Homo sapiens: one gene and its partners. The protein of the gene in region 4 purifies or fractionates together with the protein of the main gene of each other region. This does not show direct contact. Each region holds a gene or a part of one and is shown on either strand. Other genes may lie near its edges. The genes, in order: NEMF, TOMM34, FARS2 and ZNF490.

Region 1 (6,050 bases), on a different chromosome or scaffold from region 4:
AAAGACTAGCTGGTTTAATATGTGTTTTTAATAATACATACCTGTTGTAAAGCTTTTAAGTCAATTTTCTGGCCTTCTATCTTGGAATAAAATTCATCCACCGCCTTATTAAAAAAACAAACAACTAGTTGGAAAAAAAAGCACAGTCTCTACTTCAACTTGCATACACAGAATTTTATTTTTTTTTTCTTTTTTTTTGAGACAGAGTCTCACTCTGTTGCCCAGGCGGGACTGCAGTGGCGCGATCTAGGCTCACTGCAACTTCCACCTCCGAGGTTCAAGTGATTCTCCTGCCTCAGCCTCTCAAACAGCTGGGACTACAGGTGCACCCCACCACACACCGCTAATTTTTGTAGTTTTTCAGAGACAGGGTTTCACTGTGTTGGCCAGACTGGTCTTGAACTCCTGACCTCAACTGATCTGCCTGCCTTGGCCTCCCAAAATGCTGAGATTATAGGCATGAGCCAGCAAGCCCAGCTGCATACACAGAATTTTAGATTCCATTGTGTTTCATAACACCACTCAAAGAACTTGAACAGATTTCCGGTAAATGTATTATATGGCTAAACAGTATCAAGAATCAAATGAAGTTCAAACCTCTGGTCCTTCATCCTGAAATAAAGTGGCAACAATTATTTCCAACAGCTGTATCTGTGACGACACTGATCTTTAATGCCCAGATTCACAGTGAATGTAAAGCAAGTATAGTTTCAGTTTCTCAATAGAAGCAAGTTGATATCAACAGCTCATATCATGCTAACTAACTGGTAAAGGAACAGAACGGAAAACCCACCTTGTCAAATGATTCAAATTCTATATATGGACATTGTGAATGTTGAGAAAACAAGAAAGGATGAAATTCCTCATACCTGTAAAACATATTTATTATATCACATTCGAGAACATTAACAAACATCCAAAGCAAATTGACCCATGCCTATATGCTTACGTCAGTATGTCTTCAACTGGTTTATCTGCTTCCAAGCTTGGTTTTATTTCTCTTTTCTGAATGATATATCCCTACAAAAATGCAACATTAAAATCATTCCTATTCATAATTAACAAAGATTTACTTCTTTTTTTTTTTTTTGATACAGTCGCGCTCGCTCCATCACCCAGGCTGGAGTGCAGTGGTATATTCTCGGCTCACTGCAACCTCTGCCTCCCGGGTTCAAGCAATTCTCATGCCTCAGCCTCCCAAGTAGCTGGGATTACAGGTGTGTGCCACCATACCTGGCTAATTTTTGTATTTTTAGTAGAGACAGGGGTTTTGCCATGATGGCCAGGGTGGTGTCGAACTCTTGGTCTCAAGTGATCCGCCCACCTTGGCCTCCAAAAGTGCTGAGATCACAGGTGTGAGCCACTGCACCTAAAAATTTAGTTTCTGTGACTGATATTAATTTGCACCTAATCCAAAGGTTTACTTTCTATGACTGATATTAATTTTAATTTTCTATAAATAGTTATGCTTTGAAAAGGGAAGAAAAACACTCATAAGCTACTAGGTAATTCAAAAAATATTTAATGGTTGGGAGCTGTAAATCACAACATTTTTGAAAAGGGCTGACAAATGAAAATGTGCTTCTCTATCTGAAACTAAAGAAATAACTGTAAATTCCTCAACTTTTCTGAAGAGCCGATACTAACCTGACATTGTACTTTCTATAAAAGATAGGGAACAGAAAAAAACTTATAAACCAACAAAAACTTTTAAAACACTATCCTGGGCCGGGTGCAGTGGCCCATGTCTATAATCCCAGCACTTTGGGAGGCCAAGGCAGGCGGATCACTTGAGGTCAGGAGTTCGAGACCAGCCTGGCCAACACGGTGAAACCTCATCTCTACTGAAAATATAAAAACTGTCCAGGCATGGTGGCACGTGCCTGTAGTCCCAGCTACTCGGGAGGCTGAGACAGGAGAATCACTTCAACCAGGGAAGCAGAGGTTGCAATGAGCCAAGATCATGCCACTGCACTCCAGCCTGGGTAACAGAGCAAGACTGTCTCAAAAAACAAAACAAAAAAACTATCCTGGAATAAGCATATTACAGATAACAATTTTCCAAATTAAAATAAAATGTATATATAATGATCCTTTAATGAACGTTTAATTTCTGAAAACCCAAATAAATCACAACAATATATAGTAAGTATACATGGTGCTACCTTCCCACTGAAGTTGGATGTTGTTTTCATATAGTCTTCTGCTTTCTGCAGAGAAACAAGTACTTTTTCAATATCTAATGGTGGGGGAAAAAAAGGAAAAAAGGAGTGCCAATCAAGTGTCAATTAACCGTGGCTAAACAACTATGTAGAAAAACAGGAAAGTGCTTACAAAATAATGTTGCGTTCAAGAAAATTAGAGATAGTGATTTCATGTTTATAACCAGTATATGTGGATATATGGTTTCATTTTGAACAGCCTGTTGTCCAAGTAGCTTTTATTGAATCATCCACCTTTCCCTCCATGACCTGAAAGGAACTTTGTTCATAAACTAAATTCCCATATTATTTCAAATTATTTTTGGAATCTTTATGCTATTCCTTCTCCAAAAACTTACAGTTTTAATTACTATAGCTTCATATTTTAATCTGTGAAGGGTTACACAGACAGTAATAAATCATTACTAGTATTTTCCAGAGTTATCCTGAACATTTTCACATGCTTTTGCTCCATATAAACATCAGAGTCATTTTATAAAAACAAACAAAAACAAAACACCACCACCAGCACCTGTTGTCATTTTATGAGTGCACTGATTTAGTATATTGCAGAAACTAAAACATTCACTAAAATCTCATTCAATTTTTTTTTTTGAGAGTGGTGATACTTGTTTTTGTGGGGTTTTTTGAGATGGGGGTCTCACTCTGTTGCTCAGGCTGGAGTGCAGCTGTGCAGTCACCACCCACTGCAGCCTCAAACACCCAGGCTTAAGTGATCCTCCCACCTTAGCCTCCCAAAGTGCTGGGATTGCAGGCATGAGCCAGTGTGCCTGGTCAAATGTTTTTCATTCTAGAACCACCTGCTCCCTTATTACTTTCCCAGAAAAAATTTTCATAGTTTAAAAAAAATGAAATAAATGAAAAATGTACCATGCAGACATACCTTTAGTTTCAAGTTTTTCATCCACTTTGACATTACCCGAGAATCCATTTTCTAAAAGACAGTGTTCAATGAGAGCTGGTCCATAGGCTATAAATGCAGAGGATATTACTTTTAGTATTTTCCTATAAATTCTTTTTTGTTTTTGTTTTTTGAGATGGAGTTTTACCCGTCGCCCAGGCCGGAGTGCAATGGTGCAATCTTGGCTCACTGCAACCTCTGCCTCCCACCTCCTGCCTCAGCCTCCTGAGTAGCTGGGATCACAAGCACCCACCACCATGCCCAGCTAATTTTTGTATTTTTAGTAGGGACAAGGTTTCACCATGTTGTCCAGGCTGGTCTCGAACTCCTAACCTCAGGTGATCCACTCACCTCAACCTCCAAAAGTGCTCAGATTACAGGTGTGGGCCACCATGACCTAGCCTAAAATTTAACATTCAAAATATAGCACAAATTTATTTCCCAATATCAATGATCTACTCAATAACAGTGGCTGGTGAAAACAATAAGTTTACTTATTTTGAAGTGTTACTTAGAAATGACAATTCTAGTTCTTAGACTGGGTGCGGTGGCTCATGCCTATAATCCCGGCACTTTGGGAGGCCAAGGCAGGCAGATCACCTGAGGTCGGGAGTTGGAGACCAGCCTGACCAACATGGAGAAACCCCATCTCTACTAAGAATACAATAAATTAGCCAGGCGTGGTGGCACATGCCTGTAATCCCAGCTACTCAGGAGGCTGAGGCAGGAGAATCACTTGAACCCGGGAGGCGGAGGCTGTGGCGAGCCAAGATCGTGCCATTGCACTGCAGCCTGGGCAACAAGAGTGAAACTCCGTCCCCCGCCCCACCCCGCAACCAAAAAAAAAAAAAAAAATGACAATTCTAGTCCTTAAAGAAATTTGAAACTACAATTAACTTACAAAAGTCAGTGCAAGTTATAGGAATTTAATGGGCTTCAACCACAATGAGGATTTATCCCTGGAATGCAAGGTTGGTTTGGCAACCAAAAATTGGTTAATATAATACTCCATATTGATAAAATAAAGGAAAAGAGCCATATATCATTTCAATAGATGCAGAAAAAGCATTTGACAAAATTCAACACTAATTCCTAATAAAAACTCTCAATAAACTAGGAATAGAGGGAGCATTCTCAACCTTATAAGGACACCTATGAAAAACCTACAGCTAACATGATAATTACTGGTGAAGGACTGAATATTATCCCCCTAAGATCAGGAACAAGGAAAGAATATTCAGTCTCACACTGCTATTCAACATTGTACTGGAAGCTATAGCTAGCACAATAAGGCAAATTAATTAATAGCATTCAGATTCTAAAGGAAGAAGTAAAGCATCCTTATTCACAGATGACATGATCCTGTACCTTAAAAAATCCTAAGGAACCCACAAAAAAACCCTACTAGAATGAATAAACAAGTTTATCAGGTTTGCAGGATACAAAAACCAATATATAGAAATCAATTGTATTTCTATGCAAAAATGAAATTAAGAAAATTCCACTGACAATAGCATCAAAAAGAATAGAATGTTTAGGAATAAATCTAACTGAGAGAAATTAAAGATCTAAATAAATAGTCAGACATTCTCTCTTCATAGAAGACTCAATGTAGTTAAAACGGCAATTCTCCCCAAACTGATCCACAGACTTAATGTAATCCTTACCAGGCCAGGCAGTGGCTCACAGCTGTAATTGAGACCAGCCTGGCCAAGAAGGTGAAACCCCATCTCTACTAAAAACACAAAACTTAGTGGGTGTAGTGGCATACACTTGTAATCCCAGCTACGTGGGAGGCTGAGGCAAGACAATCACTTGAACCCAGGAAATGGAGGTTGCAGTGAGCCGAGATCATGCCACTGCACTCCAGCCTGGGCAACAGAATGAGATTGTCTCAAATAATAGTAATAATGTAATCCTTATCAAAATCCTATGAGGCTTTTTTCATAGAAAGTAACAAGTCAACTCTAAATTTTATAAGGAAATGCTGGCCGAGCGCAGTTGCTCACGCCTGTAATCCCAGCACTTTGGGAGGCTGAGGCGGGCAGACTGCTTGAGTTCAGGAGTTCGAGACCAACCTGGACAACATGGTAAAACCCTGTCTCTACCAAAAAATAGAAAAATTAGCCAGGAGTTCATCCCTGTAGTCCCAGCTACTTGTGGGGCTGAGGCAGGAGATGGCCTGAACCTGGGAGGTGGAAGCTGCAGTGAGCAGTGTTCGTGGCACCGCACTTCAGCCTGGGCAACAGAGCGAGACCCTTGGGAAATGCAGAAGATCTTTTGAAATGCCAAATGCCAAAACTCTTTTGAAAAAAAAAAAGTGAACAGTTAAGAGGACATGTAAGTTGAGTATCCCTTATGTGATGTGTTGGGATAGAAGTGTTTGAGATTTCAGATTTTTTCACATTTTGGAATATCTGCATATACATAATGAGATACCTTGGGGATGGAACCCAAATCTAAACACAAAATTCATTTATGACTTTACGCAATATAGCCTGGAGGTGATTTTATACAATATTTTAAATAATTCTGTATAGCTGTCACATAAGGTCAGTGTGGAATTTTCCACCTGTGGCATCACGTCTGTGCTCAAAAAGTTTCAGACTTCAGGCCAGGCACGGTGCCTCACACCTGTAATCCCAGCACTTTGGGAGGCCAAGGCAGGTGGATCACGAGGTCAAGAGATCAAGACCATCCTGGCCAACATGGTGAAACCCCATCTCTACTAAAAATACAAAAAAAATTAGCTGAGCGTGGTGGCATGAGCCTGTAGTCCTAGCTACTTGGGAGGCTGAGGCAGGAGAATTGCTTGAACCCGGGAGGCAGAGGTTGCAGTGAGCTGAGACTGCACCACTGCACTCCAGCCTGGTGACAGAGAGAGACTCTGTCTCAAAAATAATAGTAATTTTAGGCTTAAGATTTTC
Region 2 (6,050 bases), on a different chromosome or scaffold from region 4:
TTGCATGGAATTCATAAATTAACGGAGAGAAAAATCTTCTTGTAACAACTTAAAAGACAGGCACAAATTCTTTGGCAATCCTCCACTGAGAGGCGGAGGTGTATCTGCTCTCTCTCTTTGAATTCGGGCAGGCTCTGTGACTGCTCTGACCAACAGAGGACAGAGGAAGGGACACGATGTGACTTCCAAGGTTAGGTCATAATAGGCCTTGCAGCTTCCACCTTGGTCTCTGGAAACACTCGCTCTTGGAGCCTTGAACTGACAGGGAAGAAGCCAACTACTCTGAGGCCACCACGCTCTCAGGAAGCTCACAGCAGCACACATGAAAAGGCTGCTAAGAAAGTGGAAAGAGGTGCCAGCTTGCTCTAGCAGTTCCATCACCCAGCCATTTGAGTCAGGCAGCCCAGCTGCCAGACATTCGAGGAAGAAGGCTTTAGAGGATTCCAGCCCCAGCTACCATCTTGCTGACCCTGCATGAGAGACCCCAAATGAGAACTGCCCTTCCCTAATTCCTGACTCCACAAATTACAAGCAAAATAAAATGGTTGTTGTAAATCACCAAGTTTTAGAATAGTAGCCCGTTTTAAACTTTGAACACAGAAGAATTCCTTTTTTTTTTTGGAGACAGGGTCTCACTCTGTCACCCAGGCTGGAGTGCAGTGGCATGATAACAGCTCACTGCAACCTCCGCCTCCTGGGTTCAAGCGATTCTCCTACTTCAGCCTCCCGAGTAGCTGGGATTACAGGTGCATGCCACCATGCCCAGCTAACTTTTGTATTTTTTGGTAGAGATGGGGTTTCACCATGTTGGCCAGCCTGGTCTCAAACTCCTAACCTCAAGCAATCTGCCCACCTCAGCCTCCCAAAGTGCTGGGATTACAGGCATGAGCCACCTCTAAACATAGAGGAATTCTAAGGAAATTAAAGTTTCCTCCCAATGGGCTTGGCAATTTAAAGAAATAGCCAAGTGTCTGGGAAGCAGAGGAACCACCGTGTATCGTGACTTCAGAATAGAAATGTGATTAATAGGGTCATGTGAGACTTCTAAAGACTATATTTAAGATGAACAAAATGCATAACTTCAGGCAATAAAATAAACCCCCTTGACTTTTGGTAAATGAAGTAACTGTATCCAGTCAGAAGGGTTTTAATTACAAAGGGGTTGGGAAATAACACAAGTGAGTGAAAGGGAAATAAGCTTTGGAGTCACAAAGATCTGGCTTAAATCTCAGCCACCATGTACTAGTTGTTTAACTTTGTGGTCACTAATTCATCTTTCTGAGCCTGATTAGGTAACACAGGACAATGATCTAAGCTGAAGAACTGTTGTGAGTACAAGTGAGATTCTTATGACAGCTGTTTCAGGGCTGGCAAGTTGTAGGTGCTATGCACTCAGATGTCACCTGCACAAAGGGAGCCAAAGTAAGCCAAAGCCTGGGCATTGTGTCATTCAGATGGGCGTACATGAGGTGGAGCATTAGACTATGTCCAAGACGTTCCAGGACATGATAAAATGTTAGCCACAATGGCTGAAAGTTGTTTTGTCATTAGTCCTCTAGATTAAATTATAAATCCAATGCAATCACAACCAAAAGCTGTCCAACAAGACATTTTTTGGAATTTGCCAAAATGATCCGAAGCTTTAGCTAGAAGAACAAACATGGGAAAATACTAGGAATGCTCTGATTAAGAAGAATGAAGAAAAGACCAGCCCTATAAGATATTATAAAGCAAAAGCAATTAAAACAGTGTGGCACAGACACCTGCATGAAGAACAGTATCTAAACAAGACAAAACACAGCTCCAAATATGGTAATGATCCAGAAAAATGAGTTAATGGAGGTGTCCAGCAGCATAAGGTAAGCAATGTGAAAGAGGGTCCAGAGATAGAGGAGTTAGAAGATGCCACACAAATATGGAACAAATAGGCTGCAGGCTTCTTTTTCAAATTAGCCTGGCAAATTGTGGCCCCTCTGGTCCAATCAGCAATAAAACCACATAAAACCACAGGTGCAAAATTCCAAAATATAAGCTTTAAAACTACAAGTTCTCTTTCCAACTCATTGGGCAGCAAAACCTGATCTGAACTGACATGAAGCTATTTAGTTTCTCTATTCCACCCCATGTGAACATGGAATTTTCAAGTTTCACTGGCAGAAATACTAATAATTAACTTCTGCAAGCTGCCCCAGACACTGCTGGGGTGTTACATAATTCAGACCATATTACCTCACTAAAATGGAAAACACTTCTTTTTTTTTTGTGACAGAGTCTCGCTCTGTCACCCAGGCTGGAGTGCAGTGGCACAATCTTGGCTCACTGTAACCTCTGCCTCCTGGGTTCAAGTGATTCTCCTGCCTCAGCCTCCTGAGTAGCTGAGATCACAGGCATGTGCCACAGCGCCCAGCTGATTTTTTGTATTTTTAGTAGAGATGGGGTTTTGCCGTGTTGGCCAGGCTGGTCTCAAACTCCTGACCTCAAGTGATCCTCCCGGAGCCTCAGCCTCCCAAAGTGTTGGGATTACAGGCATTGAGCCACCGTGGCTGGAAAACACATTTTATCTCAAGAGTTTGGAATAAGGAACAATGTGTCTATATTAGATCCAAGATTTTTGAACTAGAGAGTGATATGTGTATGCTGGTAGGGAAGGATAAACAGATTTCTAACATTTTATAATGTTTTATACTAAGCATTTGGTTTTGATATGGTCTCTTGCTGAATGTTTCAAGCTTCTGAGAGTAAAAGTAACAGGAAGATCTTGTTGAAGTCAGATTCCAATTCTTGTGCCAACATTTACTGGCTGGCTGAGTTTAAAGCAAAACCCTTCCTTCTCTGAGCCTCAATTTTCTAAACACTAAAACAGAAAGACCACCTATACGAGCATTGTTGGAGAACAATCACTCCTACACAGTGAAGGGACCGCACCCTGGCTCCCAGGTTCTCAGTCAGTGGTCACTGACGGCAGCTCCTGGTGCAGGACTTTCTACAGGCCCACAAGTCTAACCTTTCAGGCTAGACTGTACCCATCCTTCCTGCTCTCATGCCAGGCAATGGTTACTTCACATTTTGGCTTCTGGGCCAGTACTCTCAGACAGAAATGGTGCCAGAATTTCTAACAGGAGGGTCTTGGAGAAGGGTAGGGAGCAGCGTAGCGTGGTGGGGTGGACAGGCTAAGAGACTTGTGTTAGGGTTGTGTTTGCAGAGCAGGCACACTGCTTTTAGTTACATTGCATGCTTATGAAAATTCTGGGGACAGGGGCCAACAAAGCCCAGGCTACCATTTGGCATCCCTCAGTTTCTACCCTTTTGAGAGAATGAATGCCACTGGTCATGGCTAGCTCACAACGTGGATGCATGTTTTCAGCCATAACATACTTGACTAAATGCTAGGGATGAAGGGCCCATTGCAGTCCAAGAGAAGACTATGGAACAAATGTCCTGAAATGCCCCAGGCCAGCAGCTGTATAGGAGATACCTGTTGCTGTACGTGGCAGATTCCAGGTTACTACACAAGAGGCTTTCACTGTACTTCTCAATAGCTTTCTTATGGTTTCCCTTCTTTACAAGCTCATTGCCTTCTTCCTTCAGAACTCTGGCTTTCTCCACATCCCCAGCAGAAGGCACTAGATACAAATTCAGAAGAGGAAAAAAACCATGGAGCAGCACCCAACTGAGATCAGTGAGGTCTCTTCAGCATCGTCCCTTCCAAACTGACTACAATCCTCTCTCCCAGAGATTTCCTCCCCTGCTGTAAATCATCCTTCCTGATTAATGACTTCCCCCAATTAATAGCTTCTGGGCAATTCAACAGTTTTTCATCAAGAAGTTGGGGAATCCTGATATAAAAACATTTTTGCATGCACATAAAAATATATAAATGATAAAAAGCAACCCAGGTTCTAGCCTTGGCACTGCCTCTTGGTAGCTGGAAGATCTTGTGTGACCTACCTAACTTTTGGACCTCAATTTCCTCACCAATAAAATAGGGCAATACTAATTCCACAGATGGCTATTTTCAGGGTCAAATCTGAGAGTATGTAAGAAAGTACGGAACACACTATAAACTTAAAGCAGGACAATAAGTAAATAAATACTAATAAACAAATATCTGGTAAAGAAAAGGTATAGCTTCTGGGCTATGAGAAAAGGGGAGAAGAGCCTGCTATTCCTCATTTCTGGTTTGGGCTGAGCCTGTGAGTATCCTCCCTCATCTAACACATGCAGCTCTGCTCCAGCCTTCAAGGAGAGGAAGCAGAGGGAACATGGTGAAATCCAAGCTGCTCAACTTGGTGTTCAGGCCCTTCACTGCTTGGCCCCAATTAATTATTCCAGCCTCAGCTCCATATCATCTGCTTTTCAAAAATTTTTAAAACTATCTTTATAAAATACTAAATATTTATGACCAGGGTAAGATTATAGGTTTACACCCTGAATTCATTGCCTGGTTTAAGAAAAAGAACATAACTAGGACCTTTGAAGTCCTGGGGGACCTTCCTCAATTCAATCCACTGCTGGAGGAAACTATTATCCCCAATTCTGTGCTTCTTCCCCACCTTTTTAAACAGTATAACTATATACAACAGTACCCACAGATCATTTGCTGTTTACTTTGTTTTTGAACTTCATACAGAAGAATAAGTCTGTGTATTCTTTTATGACTTGGTTTTTCTTTTTCCCCTTAATGTTATATTTCTGAGATTCATCTGTGTTGATGCACAGACCTGCAGCTCCTTCATTTTCATTGCTGCAATACCAAAGCTGAATTGTCCATTCTCCCATTTATGGAGATCTGGGTTATCTCCAGTTGTTTTTTGCTATTACAGTCTTCTACGAACATTTGTGGGTACATCTCCCTGTGCACATGCACACAGGTTTCTCTTGAAGTAGGGCTTCAGCTTCACTGGCACCCTGCAACACACCACTCTGCAGTCATCCTTATTCCTACTGTTCCCCCCATGCACTTTCATTCTCCAACTCTCTCCACTGTCTCTGCCAAGGATTCTCCTTCCTTCCCACCTGATGACCTTCTTCAAGGTCCAGCTCAAGGCTCCACCTCCATTGCCACCCCTTCTGAGTCTTTCCCCGACTCCCTCATGCACTTAAGTCAGTTTCTATCCTGAAGTCCTCAAACACTAAGACTCTAAAGCACATGTTCCTCCTCCTTGTGTTTTAAGACACTGTTTACATGTCTCAGTCCCTCAACTGAGGGAGAGTTCCCTGAGGGCCAAGACTGTCCTCTGTGTCACACTGCTTAGCATACACATGGCTTGGAACACATGGCTCAGTGACCCTGAAAGAATGAAATCAATGGTAGGTGCACTGATTTAAAGAATGAAATCAATGGTAGGTGCACTGATTGAAAGAATGAAATCAATGGCACTGATGCCATCAGGTTCATTAGCACCGCACATTTTCATCCTAGAGAAGAGTGGGGAACACTTACCAGGCTCCCACAAACCAGAGTGAATGCTACCCATGACCAGAGAGGCATTCTCCTGTAGAAGGTGAGTAACTCTTGTCCTCCCCTAACACCTATAGGTCACTTACACATGGCAGGGCTCCATCTCTGATCCCTTCTGCACCTCTAGCCTGAATCCCTAGCTTGCTGGGCTGGGACCATTCCCCTGGAGCATTAAAAGAGCTTCCTAGTGCCTGACAAATGGCCTCTTCATTTCATACAGTTGAGGTGAGGAATCTCCTGTTTTTGGCTGCTTGGATCTCCTTTCTCTTCTTCATGCTTCTCCAGGGATTCACACAGTGTACATGCTCCTGGGAAGCATCACCCTCTAGTTCTGGAGGTGGGGCAGGTGCCTCAGGGTGACCTAATCACAAAATCTCATCCGCCGGTTATGGTGTGTACTTCAGGGAATGGCCTGTGACCATGAAGACCAGAATAGATTGAGAAAATGATTGAGAAAATATGTGAGCTAGAGTTTTTTGGGGGAAAAAAATCCTATCTTTTCCTAGTGAGCTATCAGAGAAAGACTTTCTTTCTCTGGGTCATGAGGCATGGGGTATGGATGTGAGGCCGGGAACTGCTATAGCTATTT
Region 3 (6,050 bases), on a different chromosome or scaffold from region 4:
GCAGGAAAAGAGTCACACAGGTGAGGACTCAGGGTCCCATCAATCAGAGACTGTTGCTAGCACCCAGGAGAGTGCCCCACAGCTGGACAGAAAAATGTACAGGACAGGATGTGGAGGCCGCACAGAGAAAGACACCACAGAAGCCAACACAGCCTAGAGCATCACTTAGGAGGGCCTAAAAGGAGACCAAGGAAGAGAAATTTCTGCTTCTTGCACAATAGGATTCCCAAATGGCTTCCAGAGTTTCCTGGCCAGGGGATCCACAAGTTCATAGCTGCCAGCAGGCCTTTTCCCCATTTTCTCGCCCCACCTCTGAGATTGCAGAGAATTACAATCATTTTAAGTATTTTTCTCAAGGCAGGTCAACTGTAGTAATAAAACAAGTTTTCTGTCAACACAGTCCCCTCTTATATATGTAAATATGACTACTCTACATAAATAGTTAAAAATGGCTAACACTTTAATACTATCCTTATTTTTTATCCCTAAAGACAAACCACTCTATTATATCTGAAGGCAAGCAATCTGTCATGACGAAATAGGATATAAAATGGCACAAGTGATAGGCTAAATAATAGCCCCCTTCCACAGATATCCATCTCTTACTCCCTGGAACCTGAGAATACGTTATCCTACATTAAGATCTTTATAGATATAATTAAGGAAGGATGTTCAGATGAGGTGATTATCCTGAATATCCTGGTGGGTTCCATGTAATCAGAAGAGTCCTTCGAAGAGGGAGGCAAAAATTCAGAGAGAGGGTGAGGTGTTTACAGAGGGAAGTGGCAGGGCTTGGGGGAAGGCAACGTGATGCTGTCATAAGCTAAGAACTGAGGACTGTCTCTAGACGGGCAAAGGCAAGGGAACAGATTCTCCCCCAGAGCCTCCAGAAGGAACCAGCCCTGCTGACACCTTTACTTTAGGCCAATCAGGCTGATTCTGGATTTCTGTCCTCCAAAAATATAAGATAATAAGCTCATGTTGTTTTAAGCTTCTAAGTTTGTGGTAATTTATTATAGCAGCAACAAGAAACTAATACGTATTTTTGTATCTGGAAGTGAGGTATTGCTTGTAACAAATACATAAAAATGTGGAATTAGCCTTGGAATTGGTCAGTGGGTAGTAGATAACTTGGAGCACCATGATATTAAATGGCTATTTTGCCTTAAAGAGACTCTTGTAGAAATATGGATGTTATAGACTGTGACAGGCAAGGAAAAAGTGAGGAGCATGGTAGAGAAAACCTATACTGTCTGAGAATATCCAAATATTCATAAACATACTGGTGGTAGCAATACAGATGTCAAAAGCCCTGCTGGTGAGGGCTCGCAAGGAAATGAGGAACATGTTAGTGGAAGGTGGAGGAAAGGGGATCCTTGTTCATTCATAGCGGCAGAATTAGATGAATTGGAAGTGGAAAGCAAAACTTGTAAACAATGAACTTGGATATTTAGCTGAGGAAATTTCCAAGCAAACAGTGAAAATGCAGCCTGCTTTATTCTTGCAGGAGAAAACAGACAAATTAAGAGAACTGCTATGCAAAGAGGAGCAAGATTAGATAATTTGGGAAATTCTTAGCCTATCTATACTGAAAAAGACAAAAAGTTAGGGGTTTTGCTGAAAGAAAAGTGCTTTGGAGAGAAAGCCATGAGTGCAGCTATACAACCCTTTGTTAATGCCTCAGAAGTTTTGAAGGATCAGGGTATTTAGTCAAACAGAGGGCTCTTTGAAGAAATTAAGCATATGAGTCAAGGATCCCCTCAGGCGTCTCAGCAGAAGCCAGAAATAGCAATGAATTATTCAAGAAAGATCTGCAGAGGAGCCTCTTGTGTAATGGAATGAATCCCTATGATATAAATGGGAGAGCCACAAGGTTTTTGAGAATGATTTACCATCAGGAACACTGTCAGCTGGAATTGAGAGGGACAAAAGAACAAAAAGAGAAGGAAAGAAAGAAGGCTATTTGACTCCCCAAATTCTTCAGGCAAAAGCCAGGGTAATAAAACAACTCACCTGCATATACATGCCACCCTTAACAAAAAAGGAGGTAAGGCACAGTGGCTCATCATGCCTGTAACCCTGACACTGTGGGAGGCCAAGGCAGGCAGACTGCTTGAGCCCAGGAGTTGAAGAACAGCCTGGGCAACATGGCAAGACACCTTCTCTACTAAAAACACAAAAAATTGGCTGGGCGTGGTACCATGTGCTTGTAGTACCAGCTACTCGGGAGGCTGAGATGTAAGCCTGGGAGGTGGAGGTTGCAGTGAGCCGTGATGGCACCACTGGGCTCCAGCCTGATGAAAGAGCAAGACCTGGCCTCATAAATAAATAAAAGAACTTTAAAAAAGAAGGATATTTTAGAGGGTAGAAATACAGGTCAAATGGGTGAAGCCAAGGGCCACAGAGAATTATCCCCAGGCCTTGAAACCTAATGGCTGAATTTTGAAATAGCTTGGAACCAGTGATTCTTTTTCTTCTCCTTTCATTTTCTCCCTTTTTGAATGGAAATGTCTACAACTATTCTCCAATGCCTATCCTACTCATTGTATTTTGGGAGTAGGTACCTCGCTTCAGGTGCAAAAGTGGGGAGGAATTTTGCCCCAGGATGAATCATACCCAGAGTGTCACATAAACCAGCTTTAGATAATTAAATGATGAAATGGGACTTAGGGGCTGATGATATTTAGATGACATTTTGGATTTTGAGTTGATTTTGCAATGGGTTCAGAGTTTGTGGGACCTTGGGATAGGCTGAATGTATTTTACAAAAGACAGATGTGAATCTTTAGGGGTCAAAGGGAAGACTCTGGTAGACTGAAAAATGCCCCCAACCCTACCCAAAGATATCTACGTCCTAATCCCTGTAACCTAGAAATACATTACCTTATATTCAACAGGAAATTTACATTTCCTTTTGTATTAGAGAATTAATTTGTATTAAAGTATTAAAGGATTACTTTAAGAGAAGTATTTTGAGATGGGAAGATTATCCTGAATTACCCAGCAAGGCTTGATACAATCATAAGGATCCTTATAAGAAAGAAGCAAAGGTCAAAGAGAAGGCAATGTGACAAAAGATGAAGGAGAGAGAAAAGGCAACATGATGCATGGCTGTGATCCAAGGACTGAGGATGGCCTTTAAAAGCCGGAAAAGGTGACAGTTCACAAGGACAGAAAACCAAATACCGCATGTTCTCACTCATAGGTGGGAACTGAACCATGAGAACACCTGGACACAGGGCAGGGAACATCACACACCAGGGTCTGTCGTGGAGTGGGGGGAAGAGGGAGGGATAACATTAGGAGAAATACCTAATGTAAATGACGAGTTAATGGGTGCAGCAAACCAACATGGCACATGTATACATATGTAACAAACCTGCACGTTGTGCACATGTACCCTAGAACTTAAAGTATAATTAAAAAAAAAAAAAAGCCAGAAAAGTCAAGAAGGTGGATTCCCCCAAGAGCCTACAGAAGGAGTCAGCCCTGCTGACACCTTAACTTTAGCCCAGTTGGGTGGATTTTGGTTTTCTGACCTCTAGAACTGTAAAATAATAAATACATGTTGTTTTAAGCTACTAGATTTGTGGTAACTGGTTACCTAAGCAACAGGAAACTAACAAGAATAGATACTAATTATAAGTGAATACTTAGGTAATAGTATGATCTATAATCTATACTTCACAAAGTATTTTATGAACATATACTAAATATGAATGTACAAATCCTAATTGCCCCGTTAGAAGTTCTTAAGTTTGTTACACAAAGACAACTATAAAAATTATATATTAGTGCAGGTATGCATATATTGGCTTTCAAATTTGAAGGCAGAAAGGAGAAAAAAAATGACATTTAGTGCAAGAGATCAAGAGTCTATTTCTATGTGTCTCATAAAAAAAGATTGTTGTAAGTACACTTAAAATTGAATTTAAGCCACTTAATTCTGGTGGCAACTGTGTTTTTCATCTTTATTTGTCACACCATGGTGTTGAGCACACCATTCTACACGATGTTGGTGTTCTTTAAATGTTTGCTGATTAAATAACTGACAATATATTAAAAAGAGAATGAGAAAAAGTTACAGCCCTAGCCAGGTTTTATTGTAAATTAGATACAGCTTTATTTCAAATTAGTCTACAAGGAAATTGATGCTAAAATAAAACAGATAATTATTCAAGTAGAAGTTTTTAAAAGTCCTCATAAGGTAAAACCAAAAATATATGCATATATACATAGAAAGGTTCAAGATGCAGATGGGCACACACACAAAATCAGTGTGCTTCACTATAACAATAACAAAATACACTCATAAAAATCATACCTGTCCTTAAAGTTGATGATATGGTTTGGCTGTGTCCCCGCCCAAATCTCAACTTCAATTGTATCTCCCAGAATTCCCACATGTTGTGGGAGCAACTCAGGTGGAGGTAATGGAATCACAGGGGCCGGTCTTTCCTGTGCTATTCTCGTGATAGTGATTAAGTCTCACAAGATCTGATGGGTTTATCAGGGGTTTCTGATTTTGCTTCTTCATCATTTTCTCTTGCTGCTGCCATGTAAGAAGTGCCTTTCGCCCACCGCCATGATTCTGAGGCCTCCCCAGCCATGTGGAACTGTACGTCCAATTAAACCTCTTTTTCTTCCCAGTCTGGGGTATATCTTTATCAGCAGCATGAAAATGGACTAATACAGTTGAAAAGGTCTGTACACAAATATAAATAAGTATAACTCCAGAGAGAGATGAGCCCTTCTAGGGTAGACAGACACTGATGGCTGCTGTCGCCACTGGGGCGTGAGTAGGCAGAAGAGCTAGCCTGCTACTGGCAAAGACATTTTGTTGGAATAAGAAGAATGAGCCACACTTGCGTCAGCCAAGCATGGGCTGGCATGGCAGATTGGAAAATGGAGAAACAGAGCTAACCCTCACTGCCAGCCAATTCTCCTTCATAATATTTCTGCTTACAAACGCTGGTGGTGGAAGAAGCTGGTAAGTGGATGGAAAGCAGAAAGAGATCCTGTGATCTCACATGGTTAGATCCCAAACTCTGCTGCAGGGCTAGATCTCACCATCAAGAGGAAAGCAGATGTGAAATTCAACTCAACTCCTGATTAGAACAAAAAGATCTGGCCTAGTCACCTTAGCAGCCAGAAGGTAGAAAGCATAAGACTTTCTGGGGATAAATTTTATCTACCTCAGTCTTTGTCCATTCAAACACAATTAAAAAAAAAACAAAAAGACAAGTGAAGCAGCAGGAAATATGTAAGCCATGATTAGGAAGGGAAAACAACCACAACAAAAGAACACTAGATAATCAAATGGTTGGAATTAACAGACAAGTACTTTAAAATAACCATTATGAGGCCGGGCGCAGTGGTTCATACCTGTAATCCCAGCACTTCGGGAGGCCAAGATGGGCAGATCACCTGAGGTCAGGAGTTTGAGACCAGCCTGGCCAACATGGTGAAACCCTGTATCTACTAAAAATACAAAAGTTAGCCAGGCATGGCAGTGTATGCCTGTAATCCCAGCTACTCGGGAGGCTGAGGTGGGAGAATTGCTTGAATCCAGGAGGCAGAGGTTGCAGTGAGCTGAGATCATGCCATTGCACTCCAGCCTGGGGAACAGAGCAAGTCTCCGTCTCAAAATAAATAAATAAAATAAAATAAAATAAAATAAAATAACCATTATGAATATGTGAAAGAATTTAAGGAAGAATGGATGAAATGGATGAAAAAATCAAGCATTTCAGTAGATAAATGAAAACTCTAAAAAGGAAGCAAATGCAAATTCTAGAATTGATAAATACAGTTATCTGGGGAATGATTAATTCACTGGATGGGCTTAATGGTTACTTGGACAAAACAGGAAAAAAAAAAAGATGAGCAACCCAAAGAGAAGACAATAAAAATTATCAAAAATAAAGCACACAGGAAAAGAAAATCGTTAATTAAAAAAACCTTTCATCAGAGTTCTATGGCATAGGATCAAATGGTCTAACATATATGCAGCTTCATTCTGAAAAATGAATGGAGTAGAATTGTTGGAA
Region 4 (6,050 bases):
GGTGTGTGCCTATAGTCTCAGCTACTTGAGAGGTTGAGGTGGGAGGGTCACCTGAGCTCAGGGAAGTCAAGGCTGCAGTGAGCTGTGATGACACCACTGCACTCCAGCCTAGGTGACAGAGTAAGACTCTGTCTCAAAAAACAAACAACAAAAAAAAGGCTGGGCGCTGGGGCTCACATCTGTAATCCCAGTACTTTGGGAGGCCAAGGTAGGTGGATGCTTGAGCTCAGGTGTTTGAGACCAGTCTGGGCAACATGGCGAAAACCCATCTCTACTAAAAATAGAAAAAAATAGCCAGATGTGGTGGCGTGCACCTGTAGTCCCAGCTACTCAGGAGGCTGTGGTGGGATCATTGCTTGAACCCGGGGGTGGAGGCTGCATTGAGCCAAGATTGTGCCACTGTCACTGGGTGACAGAGTGAAGGAGACCCTATCTCAAAAAAAAAAAAAAATGGCCTTTTGTATTCAGTTCTTAAAATAGCTCTAGAAGAGTTCCAGAGTGACAGGTGGAAGAAATGTCTTTAGTTATTCATAACCATCCCCTTTCCACCACAGCTAAGTTTATGTTAATGGGGTGATTTTTGGAAAGCTCCTACAAACCACAGGATGTGAGGCTAGTTGCCAGGGAACCAACCATGTGACTGGAGCTTTGAAACTTTCAGCTCTGTCCCCACCTCCAGGGAGGGAAGAGAAAACTGAAGGTTGAGTTGATCACCCATAGTGAATGATGTGATTAATCATGTCACCATAATAAAGCCACCATAAAAACCCAAAAACACGGCTCAGAGAGCCTTCTGGTTGGTAAATAAGAACATAACCATATGCCTGGAGGTATCTCTTCATCTGGCTGTTCATTCGTATCATTTAAAATATCCTTTGTAGGGCCAGGTGTGGTGGCTCACGCCTGTAATCCCAGCACTTTGGGAGGCTGAGGCAGGTGGATCACTTGAGGTCAGGAGTTCAAGACCAGCTTGACCAACATGATGAAACCCCATCTCTACTTAAAATACAAAAATTAGGCCAGGTGCAGTGGCTCACACCTATAATCCCAGCACTTTGGGAGGACAAGGTGGGCGGATCATGAGGTCAGGAGTTCGAGACCAGCCTGGCCAGCATGGTGAAACCCTGCCTCTACTAAAAACATAGACACACAGAAAAAAAATTAGCTGGGCATGGTGGCATGGGCCTGTAATCCAGCTACTTGAGAGACTGAGGTAGGAGAATCACTTGACCCTGGTAGGCAGAGGCTGCAGTGAGCCAAGATTGTGCCACTGCACTCCAGCCTGGGCAAAAGAGTGAGACTCTATCTCAAAAAAAAAAAAATTAGCCAGGCGTGGTGGTGGGCGCCTGTAATCCCAGCTACTTGGGAAGCTGAGGCAGGAGAATTGCTTGAACCTGGGAGGCAGAGGTTGCAGTGAGCTGAGATCGCGCCATTGCACTCCAGCCTGGGCGACAAGAGCAAAACTCCGTCTCAAAAAAAAAATAATAATAATAATAAATAAAATAAAATATCCTTTGTAGGCTGGGTGCAGTGGTTCACACCTGTAATGCCAGCACTTTGGGAGGCCAAGGCAGATGGATCACTTGAGGTCAGGAGTTCGAGACCAGCCTGGCCAACATGGTGAAACCCCTTCTCTACTAAAAATACAAAAATAGCTGGGCGTGGTGGAGGATGCCTGTCATTCCAGCTACTCGGGAGGCTGAAACACGAGAATCATTTGAACCCTGGAGATGGAGGTTGCAGTGAGCCAAGATCGTGCTGCTACACTCCAGCCTGGCAACAGAGTGAGACCCTGTCTCAAAATAAAGAGTAAACAAATAAATAAATAATAAAATATCCTTTGTAAGACTAGGCACAGTGACTCACTCCTATAATCTCAGTGCTTTGAGAGGAGCGAGGTGGGAGGATCTCTTGAGACCTGGAGGTTGAGACTAGCCTGGACAACAGAGCGAGACCCTAACTTTACAAAAAATAAATAATTAGTTGAGTGTGGTGGCACATGCCTATATTCCTAGCTACTTGCGGGGCTGATGAGGGAGGATCGCTTGATCCCAAGAGTTGAAGGCTGCAATGAGCTATGATCCTGCCACTGCACTCCAGCCTGGGAGACAGAGTGAAACCCTGCTCTATTAAAAAAAAAAAAAACACTTTGTAATAAATGGGTGAATGTAAGTAAAGTGTTTCTGTGAGTTCTGTAGGCTGCTACAGCAAATTAATCAAACCCAAAGAGTGGGTCATGAAAACCCTGATTTACAGCTTGTTGGTCAGAAGCATAGGTCACATCCTGGGACTTACAACTGACATTTGCAGTGAGGGGCATTCTTGTGAGCCGTTAGCTTTTGGTATTGGACTCCGTCTCCAGGTAGATACTGTCACAATTAAATTGAATTATATAGCACACCCAGCTGGTGTCTGCTTGAGAAGTGGTTATTGGTGGACCAGAAGTGAAGTATTCTGTTAAATATTTTGTTAATGGTTTTCCTATCCCTTTAAGAAAAGTGTATTTGAGACCCTCGAATAGGATTTTTTTTTAATTTAATTTTTTTTTTTGAGACAGAGTTTTGCTCTTGTTGCCCAGGCTGGCGTGCAATGATCTTGGCTCACCGCAACCTCCACCTCCCGGGTTCAAGCAATTATCCTGCCTCAGCCTCCCAAGTAGCTGGGATTACAGGCATGTGCCACCACGTCCCGCTAATTTTGTATTTTTAGTAGAAACAGGGTTTCTCCATGTTGGTCAGGCTGGTCTCAAACTCCCGACCTCAGGTGATCCACCCACCTCGGCCTCCCAAAGTGCAGGGATTACAGGCATGAGCCACCGCGCCTGGCCTAAAATAGGATTTTTTTTTTTTTTCATTTTAGAGACAGAGACTCACTCTATTGCCCAAGCTGGAGTGCAGTGGCACAATCATAGGTCATTGTAGCCTCCAACTCTTGGACTCAAGGGATCTCTGCTATGGGACTACAGGCACATGCCACCACCCTGGGTAATTCTTTTTTTTTTTTTTTTTTTGAGACAGGGTCTCTATCTGTTGCCCAGGCTAGAGTGCAGTGGCATGATCTCAGCTCACTGCAACCTCTGCCTCCTGAGTTCAAGCAATTCTTCTGCCTCAGCCTGCTGAGTAGCTGGGACTACAGGTGTGCACCACCATGCCCCGCTAATTTTTTGTATTTTAGTAGAGATGCGGTTTCGCCATGTTGGCCAGGCTGGTCTTGAACTCCTGACCTCAAGTGATTTACCCACCTCAGCCTCCCAAAGTGCTAGGATTACAGGTGTGAGCCACTGCACCTGGCCAATTTTTTTTATTTTTATAGAGACAGGATTTCACTCTGTTGCCCAGGCTTTGATGTCCTTTTATAAAAGGAATCACTGGAAGATTTTTATTTTAATGATCAGCAAAGGCCTAAAAGTCCATGACCATTCACAAGTATCATTTCCATATGGTAGATTTCCAGCACATGTTAGGAAAGAAAAAAAATGAACAGCTTTGTGTTTTACTAAAGAACAAATAAAATCCCATTTTTATTCAATATTTCAATAATTTATGTTTGCACATCACTGTGGTGACTAATGTGATTTCATAATCATTAGTATTTCATTTGATTAGCCCCACCCAATCATACCTCCCATCTTGCAAATGAAAAAAGTTAAGTATGGAGAGCACAAAGTCTTGTCTAAACTCATATGGCTCATAAGTAATAATGAAATTGGCCAGGTGTGGTAGCTCACGCCTACCATCCCAACACTGGGAGGCTGATGTGGGAGGATCACTTGAGTCCAGGAGTTCAAGATCAGCCTGGGCAACATAGCAGGACCCTGTCTCTAAAATTTAAAAAATTTAAATTTTTTTTTTTTTTTGAGGTGGAGTCTCACTCTGTCACCCAGGCTAGAGTGCAGTGGCATGATCTCGGCTCACTGCAACCTCCACCTTCTGGGTTCAAGCAATTCTCCTGCCTCAGCCTCCCAAATAGCTGGGATTACAGATGTGCACAACCACACCTGGCTAAAAAAAGAATTTTTTTAAAATTAGCCAAGCGTGGTGGCGCACACCTAGTCCTAGTTCCAGCTACTAGTCCCAGCTACTAGGGAGCCTGTGAAGTTGAGTCTACAGTGAGCTGTGATCTTGCCACTGCACTCCAGCCTGGGTGACAGAACATAATAGTAATAGTAATACAATATAATAACAGTAATAATAATGGAACTTCTCAGTATTAAAGTCCAAATGTGTGCCACCACATATACTGAGCACTGTCAAAAACTGAAAACTCAGGCCAGGCATAGTGACTCACACCTGTAATCCCTGCACTTTGGGAGGTTGAGGCAGGAGAATTGCTTGAAGCCAGGAGCTTGAGACCAGCCTGGGCAACACAGCAAGATCCCTGTCTCAAAAAAAAAAAAAAGGAACAAACAAGAACAGCATAGCATCTGCAGACAGAGAAGCAGCAGCAAATCAGTGGAGGCCAGGATTGATAGCTTCCCCATTTCGGGTTTTGGTAGACAGGAAGGACGGTGACCCAGACACTGAAAAATACCAGCATGCTGAACTTAAGGATTGGCTTATTGAAAATGTCAGGCAAGTTCCTGGCCAGAAAAGCCACATTGAAGCTCCCATGAGCCAAGGAACCCAGGATTCACAGAACAGTCAATAACCAAATCGTGGTTTTATGTGAAGATGACATATTCAGGCTCAGATTATGTATCCACATGCATGAAGGCTGTAGTCATTCCCCATGAAATTCCTCCCACTTCAGCATCCCAAAGTGTTGGGATTACAGAGTCACTTAGATCAGGGAACTGATAGCAATGACAAAATTAGGTACCCCCGACACTAACCCGTGCCTTATCCGTCTCTTGCATGTTTACCTTGAAGGTCAGAACTGCAGTGATCGTTTTGTCCAAACTATGCAAACAAGTAAACATGACTCCAAATTTGTGGTTTTTGTGTTTTTTTGAGACAGGGTCTCGCTCTGTTGCCCAGGCTAGAGTGCAGTGGCACCATCACAGGTCACCGCAGCCTCAGGTTGAAGCCATCCTCCCGTCTCAGCCTCCCGAGGACCTGGGACTATGCCACCATGCCCAGCTAATTTTTTATCTTTATTTATTTATGTATTTATTTATTTATTTATTTATTTATTTTTGAGACAGAGTTTCACTCTGTTGCCCAGGCTGGAGTACAGTGGCGCGATCTCAGCTCACTGCAACCTCCTCCTCCCAGATTCAAGTGATTCTCATGCCTCAGCCACCCAAGTAGCTGAGATTACAGGTGTGCCTCCCACCATGCCCAGCTAACTTAAAAAATATTTTTAATAGAGATGAGGTTTCAGCATGTTGGCCAGGTTGGAAACCAACTCCTGGCCTCAAGTGATCCACCCACCTTGCCTCCCAAAGTGCTGAGATTACAGGCATGAGCTACTACACCCAGCCATTTTTTTTATTTTTTGTAGAGACAGAGTCTCACTACATTGCCCACACTGGTCTCAAACTCCTGAACTCAAGCAATCCTCCTACCTCAGTCTCCCAAAGTGCCAGGATTACAGGCATGAGCCACTGCACCCAGCCCAAATGTGATATTCCAAAGGATGCAGGTGGCTGTGTTGGGATGGCCAATGAAGGTAAGGGACAATGGAAGTACAGGGTGAGGGCAATGAACAGGACATACCTGAGAGCCTGGTTATTGGCCTTGACTATGGGAGTGCCTTCACAAAGACCCGAAAGACCCCCCCACAAAGAGGTCATAGAAGGACAGACCCAAATGGTCATTATAAACAAGGAAGGTAGCCACGCTGACAGGTAGCGATCTCACTTACAGTTTGAGTCTTGATGCTTTGTCCATGGTGTTCACTGTTCTGCATCTAATTAGAAACAAGAGGATGCATTTTGTGAGTTTCAGCAATTTAGAACTAAACATGACCTTTGACAGCCTTGGAAGCATTGTTCCCCCTGCATCTACCTGTACACACAGAGCTACCAGAAGGGTGGATCATGGGAGTTTTCAAGATTACACTGTCTCCTCTATAATGGGAAAAATGAAATATGTTTCTACTTTAAAAAA

Evidence for each region.
Region 1: the proteins of ZNF490 (region 4) and NEMF purify together in Homo sapiens (affinity purification with mass spectrometry; one large-scale study listed by BioGRID and IntAct). This does not show direct contact.
Region 2: the proteins of ZNF490 (region 4) and TOMM34 purify together in Homo sapiens (affinity purification with mass spectrometry; one large-scale study listed by BioGRID and IntAct). This does not show direct contact.
Region 3: the proteins of ZNF490 (region 4) and FARS2 purify together in Homo sapiens (affinity purification with mass spectrometry; one large-scale study listed by BioGRID and IntAct). This does not show direct contact.

Annotation. Positions count from the first base shown.
Region 1 is NC_000014.9:49,831,258-49,837,307, forward strand, and holds part of NEMF (ribosome quality control complex subunit NEMF), read right to left. Parts: intron 3,193-6,050; coding exon 3,106-3,192; intron 2,240-3,105; coding exon 2,166-2,239; intron 1,021-2,165; coding exon 950-1,020; intron 870-949; coding exon 794-869; intron 105-793; coding exon 42-104; intron 1-41. UniProt on the Homo sapiens protein: Key component of the ribosome quality control complex (RQC), a ribosome-associated complex that mediates the extraction of incompletely synthesized nascent chains from stalled ribosomes as well as their ubiquitin-mediated proteasomal degradation.
Region 2 is NC_000020.11:44,945,255-44,951,304, forward strand, and holds part of TOMM34 (mitochondrial import receptor subunit TOM34), read right to left. Parts: intron 3,624-6,050; coding exon 3,476-3,623; intron 1-3,475. UniProt on the Homo sapiens protein: Plays a role in the import of cytosolically synthesized preproteins into mitochondria. Binds the mature portion of precursor proteins. Interacts with cellular components, and possesses weak ATPase activity.
Region 3 is NC_000006.12:5,546,565-5,552,614, reverse strand, and holds part of FARS2 (phenylalanine--tRNA ligase, mitochondrial), read right to left. Parts: intron 1-6,050. UniProt on the Homo sapiens protein: Is responsible for the charging of tRNA(Phe) with phenylalanine in mitochondrial translation.
Region 4 is NC_000019.10:12,603,353-12,609,402, forward strand, and holds part of ZNF490 (zinc finger protein 490), read right to left. Parts: intron 5,851-6,050; coding exon 5,806-5,850; intron 1-5,805. UniProt on the Homo sapiens protein: May be involved in transcriptional regulation.